Regions from separate parts of the Homo sapiens genome. Here region 2 is reported to be linked to region 1. Evidence: microRNA targets listed by miRTarBase, many of them from high-throughput screens and not tested one by one. Region 1 holds a microRNA gene; the other region holds the end of a gene's coding sequence. Distances are between the middles of the regions.

The links. The annotated mature microRNA hsa-miR-1302 reads UUGGGACAUACUUAUGCUAAA and lies in region 1 at 2,143-2,163, shown strand. An mRNA with a match to its seed (bases 2 to 7 or 8) in the 3' UTR can be bound and repressed. Matches are read on the target gene's strand: a 7mer-m8 pairs with bases 2 to 8, a 7mer-A1 pairs with bases 2 to 7 and ends in A, and an 8mer does both.
Region 2: miRTarBase lists WDR12 as a target of hsa-miR-1302. Seed matches in the 3' UTR shown: 7mer-A1 at 3,407-3,413.

Annotation. Positions count from the first base shown.
Region 1 is chr2:113,579,989-113,585,166 of GRCh38, reverse strand. It overlaps MIR1302-3 (microRNA 1302-3), which reads left to right and starts at 2,071; the gene lies at 2,071-2,208. It overlaps LOC124907875 (a long non-coding RNA gene), which reads left to right and starts at 1,137. Exons shown (of 3, transcript XR_007087204.1): 1 at 1,137-2,372; 2 at 2,682-2,799. It also overlaps the pseudogene WASH2P. RefSeq lists silencers at 1,163-1,347, 1,358-1,537 and an enhancer at 939-1,770.
Region 2 is chr2:202,876,146-202,881,145 of GRCh38, forward strand. WDR12 (WD repeat domain 12) reads right to left here. Exons shown (of 13, transcript NM_018256.4): 13 at 1-4,792. The coding sequence ends at 4,715. Among named protein-coding and RNA genes, the nearest start is that of ICA1L, 6.9 kb to the left of the region's middle.

The sequences.
Region 1 (5,178 bases):
AAGGGGTTGATTAGCAATTATCTTTTGAAAAGCCTGTAGTTGCTCATCTGAAGAAGTGACGGACCACCTCTTATTTAGTGGACAGACAATAACTAGTGGAGAAGACAGGGGATTTTGTTGGCGGAAAAAAATTTTTATCAAAAGTCGTCTCCTATCAGGGAGTTTTATGAGAAACCCTAGCTCCTCAGTTCCACAGTGGGTAACTGTAATTCACTCTAGGTCTGCGATATTTCCTGCCTATCCATTTTGTTAACTCTTCAATGCATTCCACAAATGCCTAAGTATTCTTTAATAATGGTGGGTTTTTTTTTTTGCATCTATGAAGTTTTTTCAAATTCTTTTTAAGTGACAAAACTTGTACATGTGTATCGCACAAAATTTCTAGTCGACAGCACTGCTTTACAGAATGTAAACCGTGCACTCCCAGGAAAATGCAGACACAGCACGCCTCTTTGGGACCGCGGTTTATACTTTCGAAGTGCTCGGAGCCCTTCCTCCAGACCGTTCTCCCACACCCCGCTCCAGGGTCTCTCCCGGAGTTACAGGCCTCGCTGTAGGCCCCGGGAACCCAACGCGGTGTCAGAGAAGTGGGGTCCCCTACGAGGGACCAGGAGATCCGGGCGGGCAGCAGCTGCGGAAGAGCCGCGCGAGGCTTCCCAGAACCCGGCCGGGGCGGGAAGACGCAGGAGTGGGGAGGCGGAACCGGGACCCCGCAGAGCCCGGGTCCCTGCGCCCCACAAGCCTTGGCTTCCCTGCTAGGGCCGGGCAAGGCCGGGTGCAGGGCGCGGCTCCAGGGAGGAAGCTCCGGGGCGAGCCCAAGACGCCTCCCGGGCGGTCGGGGCCCAGCGGCGGCGTTCGCAGTGGAGCCGGGCACCGGGCAGCGGCCGCGGAACACCAGCTTGGCGCAGGCTTCTCGGTCAGGAACGGTCCCGGGCCTCCCGCCCGCCTCCCTCCAGCCCCTCCGGGTCCCCTACTTCGCCCCGCCAGGCCCCCACGACCCTACTTCCCGCGGCCCCGGACGCCTCCTCACCCGCGAGCCGCCCTCCCGGAAGCTCCCGCCGCCGCTTCCGCTCTGCCGGAGCCGCTGGGTCCTAGCCCCGCCACCTCCGCCCGCGCCTCCGGGTCCTAACGCCGCCGCTCACCCTCCGCTGCGCCCTCCCCGAGCGCGGCTCCAGGACCCCGTCGACCCGGAGCGCTGTCCTGGTGGACCGAGTCGCGGGCCTGGGCACGGAACTCACGCTCACTCCGAGCTCCCGACGTGCACACGGCTCCCATCCGTTGTCTTCCGAGCGTCAGGCCGCCCCTACCCGTGCTTTCTGCTCTGCAGACCCTCTTCCTAGACCTCCGTCCTTTGTCCCATCGCTGCCTTCCCCTCAAGCTCAGGGCCAAGCTGTCCGCCAGCCTCGGCTCCTCCGGGCAGCCCTCGCCCTGGGTGCGCCCCGGGGCAGGACCCCCAGCCCAGGCCCAGGGCCCGCCCCTGCCCTCCAGCCCTACACATTGACCCGCTTTCCTGCGTCTCTCAGCCTATCTGACCTTGTCTTTACCTCTGTGGGCAGCTCCCTTGTGATCTGTTTAGTTCCCACCCCCCTTTAAGAATTAAATAGAGAAGCCAGACGCAAAACTACAGATATCGTATGAGTCCACTTTTGTGAAGTGCCTAGAGTAGTCAGAATTCACAGAGACAGAAGCAGTGGTCGCCAGGAATGGGGAAGCAAGGCGGAGTTGGGCAGCTCGTGTTCAATGGGTAGAGTTTCAGGCTGGGGTGATGGAAAGGTGCTGGAAATGAGTGGTAGTGATGGCGGCACAACGGTGTGAATCTACTTAATCCCACTGAACTGTATGCTGAAAAATGGTTTAGACGGTGAATTTTAGGTTATGTATGTTTTACCCCAATTTTTAAAAAGCTAGTGAAAAGCTGGTAAAAAGAAAGAAAAGAGGCTTTTTTAAAAAGTTAAATATATAAAAAGAGCATCATCAGTCCAAAGTCCAGCAGTTGTCCCTCCTGGAATCCGTTGGCTTCCCTCCGGCATTTTTGGCTCTTGCCTTTTAGGGTTGCCAGATTAAAAGACAGGATGCCCAGCTAGTTTGAATTTTAGATAAACAACGAATAATTTCGTAGCATAAATATTTCCCAAGCTTAGTTTGGGACATACTTATGCTAAAAAACATTATTGGTTGTTTATCTGAGATTCAAAATTAAGCATTTTATATTTTATTTGCTGCCTCTGGCCACCCTACTCTCTTCCTAACACTCTCTCCCTCTCCCAGTTTTGTCCGCCTTCCCTGCCTCCTCTTCTGGGGGAGTTAGATTGAGTTGTAACAAGAACATGCCACTGTCTCACTGGCTGCAGCGTGTGGTCCCCTTACCAGAGGTAAGGAAGAGATGGATCTCCACTCATGTTGTAGACAGAATGTTTATGTCCTCTCCAAATTCTTATGTTGAAACCCTAACCCCTAATGTGATGGTATGTGGAGATGGGCCTTTGGTAGGTAATTACGGTTAGATGAGGTCATGGGGTGGGGCCCTCATTATAGATCTGGTAAGAAAAGAGAGCATTGTCTCTCTGTCTCCCTCTCTCTCTCTCTCTCTCTCTCTCTCTCTCTATCTCTATCTCATTTCTCTCTCTCTCTCTATCTCATTTCTCTCTCTCTCTTTCTCTCCTCTGTCTTTTCCCACCAAGTGAGGATGCGAAGAGAAGGTGGCTGTCTGCAAACCAGGAAGAGAGCCCTCACCAGGAACCCGTCCAGCTGCCACCTTGAACTTGGACTTCCAAGCCTCCAGAACTGTGAGGGATAAATGTATGATTTTAAAGTCGCCCAGTGTGTGGTATTTTGTTTTGACTAATACAACCTGAAAACATTTTCCCCTCACTCCACCTGAGCAATATCTGAGTGGCTTAAGGTACTCAGGACACAACAAAGGAGAAATGTCCCATGCACAAGGTGCACCCATGCCTGGGTAAAGCAGCCTGGCACAGAGGGAAGCACACAGGCTCAGGGCTCTGCTATTCATTCTTTGTGTGACCCTGGGCAAGCCATGAATGGAGCTTCAGTCACCCCATTTGTAATGGGATTTAATTGTGCTTGCCCTGCCTCCTTTTGAGGGCTGTAGAGAAAAGATGTCAAAGTATTTTGTAATCTGGCTGGGCGTGGTGGCTCATGCCTGTAATCCCAGCACTTTGGTAGGCTGACGCGAGAGGACTGCTTGAGCCCAAGAGTTTGAGATCAGCCTGGGCAATATTGTGAGATTCCATCTCTACAAAAATAAAATAAAATAGCCAGTCATGGTGTCACACACCTGTAGTCCCAGCTACATGGGAGGCTGAGGCGGGAGGATCACTTGAGCTTGGGAGATTGAGGCTGCAGTGAGCTATGATTGTACCACTGCACTCCAGGCTGGGCGACAGAGAGAGACCCTGTCTCAGGGAAAAAAAAAAGTACTTTGTAATCTGTAAGGTTTATTTCAACACACACAAAAAAAGTGTATATGCTCCACGATGCCTGTGAATATACACACACACCACATCATATACCAAGCCTGGCTGTGTCTTCTCACAAATGCACTGCTAGGCACCACCCCCAGTTCTAAATCACACCAGCCAGTTCACCCTCCAGATGGTTCACCCTCAACTTCATAAAAGTTCCCTACCTAATCTACTGACAGCCTCATCCCCGACCTAATTTTAAAGATTTCCTAGGAGCTGCAATGGGAATCCTGGACCTCAGCCTGGACAAAGAACAGCTGCAGGTCATTCTCATGTGTGGACACGGAAGCCCTGCCTGCCTTTGCTGGCCAGCTGGGCTGAGTGGGCCTGGGAAATTAAGGCTGCAGGGTTGGTCCCAGGCAGTCTTGCTGAAGCTTGCCACATCCCCCAGCCTCCTCGATTTGCCAGGATCCAAGAGCATGGACTTTAGGAATTCCTGGTGGAGGAGTGAAGAAAATGTGACAGGGTGTCCTAAGCCCCGATCTACAGGAAGAAAACTGGAAATAAGACTGAGGACTTAGTTTAAGATGTTCCTACTCAGCCTCTAGCTTTTGTGCTACAGTTCCGGGAACAGACTCCTCTCTCCTGAAAACCATTTCCCTCTGCAGCATTAAATTTCACCAAGATGTCTTGCTTGTGGGAAAGACTTCCAAGGATGCCTGGAGAGAGGAGGATGGAAATGTCCTGCTCTCTAAACAGATAGACAGATGCAGCCAGACAGAAAATAGTTTATCTTGCTGAGGTTTCTAATGTATTTGAAAGAGGCCTGGGTCTAGAAGTCTACCCAGAGGGCTCTGTGTTGTGCACGCAAAGATAAGAACCTTCCCTGTGGGAGTTCCAGAGCCAGTTTTCATAAACACCCATCGGTGACTGTGTTCAGAGTGAGTTCACACCATCCTGACCTGCCCTGAGTTAGACCTTACATGGTCTTCCTCCTCTAGGAAGCCTCTGCAGCCCAGGAACCTCCCCTTATCTGAAATGAACAGCATTTGAAGCTTCACCAGACAGACCAGACAGCTTAGCCCTCGTGTTGTGCTATGTGGGTTGTTCTCTGAGAGGCAGGAGAGCATAGTGGTTACTAGGAAGGGAAGGACTTTGGGACTAGACTGCCTCGGCTGGAGTCCTCTTTCTGCTTCATAGCCACGTGATCCTAGGCATGTTACCTGTGCCTCAGTTTTCACTCTATCAATATGTAATAACTGAATCTGTCTTTGTGGTGAGGATTCAGTGAGTTAACATATTTGAAGTGCTTAAAAATGAGGCTTGTGTCCATAGATTAATGAGTGAATACACAAATGGTGATATGGACATACAGTGGAGTATTAGTCATAAAAAGGAAGGCAGAGCTGATCCATGGCACCATGTGACTGAACCTCAAAAGCATTAGGTTAAGTGGAAGAAGCCAGACACAGGTCACCTATTGTGTAATTCCATTTATAGGAAATATACAGAATATGTAAATCTGTGGAGAAAGAAAGCCGATTTCCAGGGGCTAAGGGGAGGGGAGAATGGGAAGTGGCTGCTTCATGGGTACAAGGTTTCATTTTGAGCTGATGAAAATGTTTTGGAACTACATAGAGATAGTGTTGGCACAACATGGTGAATGTACTGAATGCCACTGATTGTTCACTTTAAAATGGTCAAACTTATGTGAATTTCACCTCCATTAAAAAAAAAAAAAAGGACCAGATGT
Region 2 (5,000 bases), 89 Mb from region 1:
TTTGAGGCCAAGGTGAGATGATTGCTTGAGGTCAGGAGTTGGAGTCCAGCCTGGGCAACATAGCAAGACGCCATCTCCACAAAAATAAAAAAAATAGCTGGGTGTGGCAGCATGCAATTGTACTCCCAGGTACGTACTCAGGAAGCTGGGGCAGGAGGATCCCTTGAACCCAGGAGTTGAGCCTGGATGGCAGAGCTAGACTATGTCTCGTAAAAAGAGATATATTTGGTTCATATAACAAAATACTGTTATTGTGTTTGATACTTAATCTATGATAGTCAAAAATGTCAACAATGAAGTGACTAAAATGTTCTTGCTGTTTCTACACCTGGCAGTTTCTGGCTAGTAAAATCTGGATTTCACTTGCCTAATGAAATCTGATTCTAATTAGTGGCTTTTTAAATAAAAAAGATATTATTGGAATATCCCTTGCATATAGTCTTAAAATGTCATATTTTTTCCTTTAAGAATAGGAGCCATAGTAATATCTATTAAAAAATCTGTATTTTTGGCCAGGCACAGTGGCATGCCTATAATCCGAGCACTTAGGGAGGCTGAGGCATGAGGACTGCCTGAGGCCAAGAGTTCATAACCAGCCTGGGCAACACAGCAAGACTGTCTCCACAAAAAAATTTTAAAATCAGCCAGATGTGGTGACATGCGCCTGTGGTCCTAGTTAGGAGGATGAGGTGGGAGGATCCCTTGAGTCCGGGAGTTAGAGGCTGCAGTGAGCTATAATCGGGCCGCTGCACTCTAGCTTGGGCAACATAGTGAGACCCTGTCTCTAAAAAATGAACAAAAATAAAAACTAGTATCTTTCAAAAAATTTAATATTTTCCTTATATTTGTTATATATAGTAAACTGTTACCTTTTTTTCAAAACTACGATACATCAAAAGAATTTTAGACTGTGTGAACAGATTTCAATGTTATTATCAGAAATTCCCAGATGGTATATATATATATATATTTTTTTTTTTGCAGGGTTGCTTGTTCCATTATATGCATTTTATATCAATTTAAACTTTTGTTTGTTCTTTCTCCAATAATATACTAGGAAGCATTCTGATATATTATTATGCATTGTTGACAACAGTTCCAAAATGGTAATTCCAAATTCAAAGGAAAAGAAAATATTGATCATCTTCTCATAGAAAAGCTATGTTTTTCTACAAAGGCCCCACTATGCCTGGCCAAGTAATTTCTTAAAACTTTATTTGGGCTGGGTGCGGTGGCTCATGCCTGTAATCTCAGCACTTTGGGAGGTCCAGGTGGGCAGACAGCTTGAGCCCAGGAGTTCAAGACCAGCATGGGCTACATGGCGAAACCCTCTCTCTACAAAAAAAGTAATAATAAAAATAAATTAAAAAATAAAAAATAAAAAATTGACTGGGTGTGGTCCCAGCTACTTGGAAGGCTGAGGTGAGAGGCCAGCTTGAGCCCAGAAGGTGGAGGTTGCAGTAAGCCAAGATTACACCATTGTACTCCAGTATGGGTGACATAGTGAGACCCTGTCTTGACAAAAAAACAAAAAAACCAACCTTTGATAAGAGAGCAAGTATCAACATTTTAAAGAACTGCACTACTATGGCAAGACAGCATAACTAGTACCGGTCAGCAGGTTCTGAGCACTGCATTGTCAGGTTCCTAGCTTTTCCCCAACCACGGGAAAGCAGCACCACTCATTTATCCAAGTGATTCTTGGGAATATATAAGTCCATGTAAAGCAGGCATCTCTGGTGTTCTGGTAGAGGAACTGGGACCATTGAAAGGTCTCATGGCTTTTGAGGGAAAGGGTGTGGAGCAATATCAGAGGACTGAATAGTCTAGGCATGTATTGACCTCTCATATTCCTTCTGTTCAGGGAGTAAGATCTAACCACTTGAGTTAACCAAGGAAAGGAGTTTGGCAGGGATTGATCAGAGACAATACTTGTCCAAGAGACTTGGTCACTTACATTATATCTATCTCAAGGAAGAATGCCTGAACTATGAATGTATTCTGCTGTGGAACCAGGATTGGGAATAGGTGGGGACCAGTTCTGGATGCCATTTTATTCTTTGTCTATGCATCTGATATATAGGCTTCTTTATCTTTAACCATCTAGTTTATACAGACTACATTCGGTCAGCCTAGGTTGGGTGAGTTAAGAAAGACATTTTAAATAACTGCCCTTAAGGATCATTTGAAGACCATCCAAAACAGGACTAGGAATTCATCTTTGTCCTCTCAAAGTTAGAAGATTTCCAGAGACTACAAATACAATAAAATTTATACCAATCAGCACAAAATGAGAAAAAGAAGGATTCTGTGCATGAATTTTCTGGCCACCTTTATTCACTATTTGGCATTAAAATATACTTTAAGAAATGGTAACTGGAGCTCTAGCTCTTGGTCTATATGAAAATGAGGACCACATACCAGGGATGGAGGGAGCCTAGGATCCTAAAGAATGTGGAACAAAACCTACATCAGCCCTGGACTGCCTCTGGTTTTCTACAGAGAACTAAACTCCTAACTGGTTCAATACACTGTTTAGCTCTCAACTGCAGCCAAGTTTAGATATTGTTTCGCAGACTTCTGCAACAGGAACATCATTTGAGATGTAATACCATCTAATAATGAGACCAAACATATTTCCCAAATATTACTAAAAGGTTGTGAATGCTCTACTTAAGGAGTATCAATCCATTAATAATGGAAATAACATTTAAAAAATACATTTACTTTAAATATTTTTATATAACACATGCATAAAGATAAATGCTAATGATATCATAAAATCTGTAGAATGTTTAATACTGATGAAAGGTTTTGTCTAAAAAATTTATTCTAATCTACACATGAGGAAAGATTAGGGTTACAGTGAAAACTGTATGCAATGCAATTTTTTATTTTTTTTTGAGACAGAGTCTTGCTCTGTTGCCCAGGCTGAAATGCAGTGGCACAATCTCAGCTCACTGCAACCTCTGCCTCTCGGGTTCAAGCAATTTGCCTGCCTCAGCCTCCGGAGTAGCTGGGACTACAGGCACATGCTGCCACGCCCAGCTAATTTTTTGTATTTTATTAGAGACGAGGTTTCACTGTGTTGCCCAGGCTGGTTTCGAACTCCTGAGCTCAGGCAATCCGCCCGCCTCAGCCTCCCAAAGTGCTGGGATTACAGGCGTGAGCCACCGTGCCCAACCAACTGTATGCAATTTCTAAAGGATCTGACATATATTTAATATAAAGTGCCTTCCTTAAAATATCTTGATGAATTCTTCAAAAATTGGCAATCTACTTGTCTTTATTTTGAGATAGAGTCTGGCTCTGCTGCCCAGGCTGGAGCACAGTGGTATGATCTCAGCTCACTGCAACCTCCACCTCCTGGGTTCAACCAATTCTCCTGCCTCAGCCTCCCAAGTACTTGGGACCACAGGAGTGTGCCACCACACCCGGCTAATTTGTTTTGGATTTTTTTTTTTTTAGTAGAGACAAAGTTTCACCATGTTGGTCAGGCTGGTCTCGAACCCCTGACCTCAGGTGAGCCGCCTGCCTTGGCCACCCAAAATGCTGGGATTACAAGCATGAGCCACCGTGCCCTGCCGAATCAATATTTTGTTATCGTTGTTGTTGAGACAGAGTCTTGCACTGTCACCCAGGCTGGAGTGCAGTGGCACAATCTCAGCTCACTACAACCCCTGCCTCCCGGGTTCAAGCAATTCTCCTGCCTTAGCCTCCCAAGTAGTTGGGATTACAGGCGGTCGCCACCATGCCCAGCTAATTTTTGTAGTTTTAGCAGAGACAGGGTTTTGACATGTTGGCCAGGGTGGTCTCAAACTCCTGACCTCAGGTGATCCACCTGCCTCGGCCTCCCAATGTGCTGGGATTACAGGTGTGAGCCACCATGCCCAGCCTACATTTTTTTTAATGTTCTGAGTACCCTCACAGCCTAATTTTCTTGAACATTTATTCTGCCAAAAGGAACTGAATTTCTAACTTTTTCTCTATTACAATTTTCATTAATCTTTTTGAATGCTTTTTTAAAATAGCTAACTTAAAAAAATCTAAGTCTCTAACAGAAATAAAAATCTCAACAATCAATTACTGGATTTCCAATATAACCTTTTACAGCATTTCAAAAACAAATCTTAATTCGGCCAGGCACAGTGGCTCACTTTGGGAGGCTGAGGTGGGCAGATCACCTGAGGTCAGGAGTTCAAGACCAGCCTGGCCAACATGGCAAAACCCCGTCTCTACTAAAAATACAAAAATTAGCAGGACATCGTGATGTGTGCCTGTAATCCCAGCTACTTGGGAGGTTGAGACAGGAGAATCGATTGAACCTAGGAAGCGGAGGTTGCAGTGAGTTGAGATTGCGCCACTGCACTCCAGCCTAGGCAACAGAGCAAGACTCCATCTCAAAAAAAAAAAAAACAAATAAAAATAAAAAAGCAAATCTGAATTCAAACCAATACCTTTAAAGAGAAATGTAAAACTCAGTTTAATTTCAAGTTTGTATAGAGAATGTATGCCACAGTTTGTATTTTATAAACACAACCTATCTTATTATAAATACAAAATAAGAAAAAGTGATACGTTAGCTGTTATGAAGGGTGAAAACATTATATAAACTTCAAAAGGCTGCTTTCTGCATCTGCATCTATGTAATTTCATGGTTCTCTACCAATTTCATTTACAGAAATAATCTCTATAGTCAAATTATTGTTCACTTTCATGCCCCAACATGGGAAGTGGTAGGTGAATATCTGTAGGAATACAATTTATTGTCTGCTCCTCCACTCAGAAGTAGCTGTGTAAAAGGAGAGAAAAAGACAAGAAAACATAAATAAATATAATTATTTCACATCATAGCTAAACCTAATTAAATACTAATGATTTTCATTACAAAAGGAATTATGGGTGAGCAGTTAACTTGCATTGAGAGTGAGTAAAGGGACCAACGTTGTTTCACTACTATACTATGATACAGTTTATTAAAACATTAAAAGCTATCATTT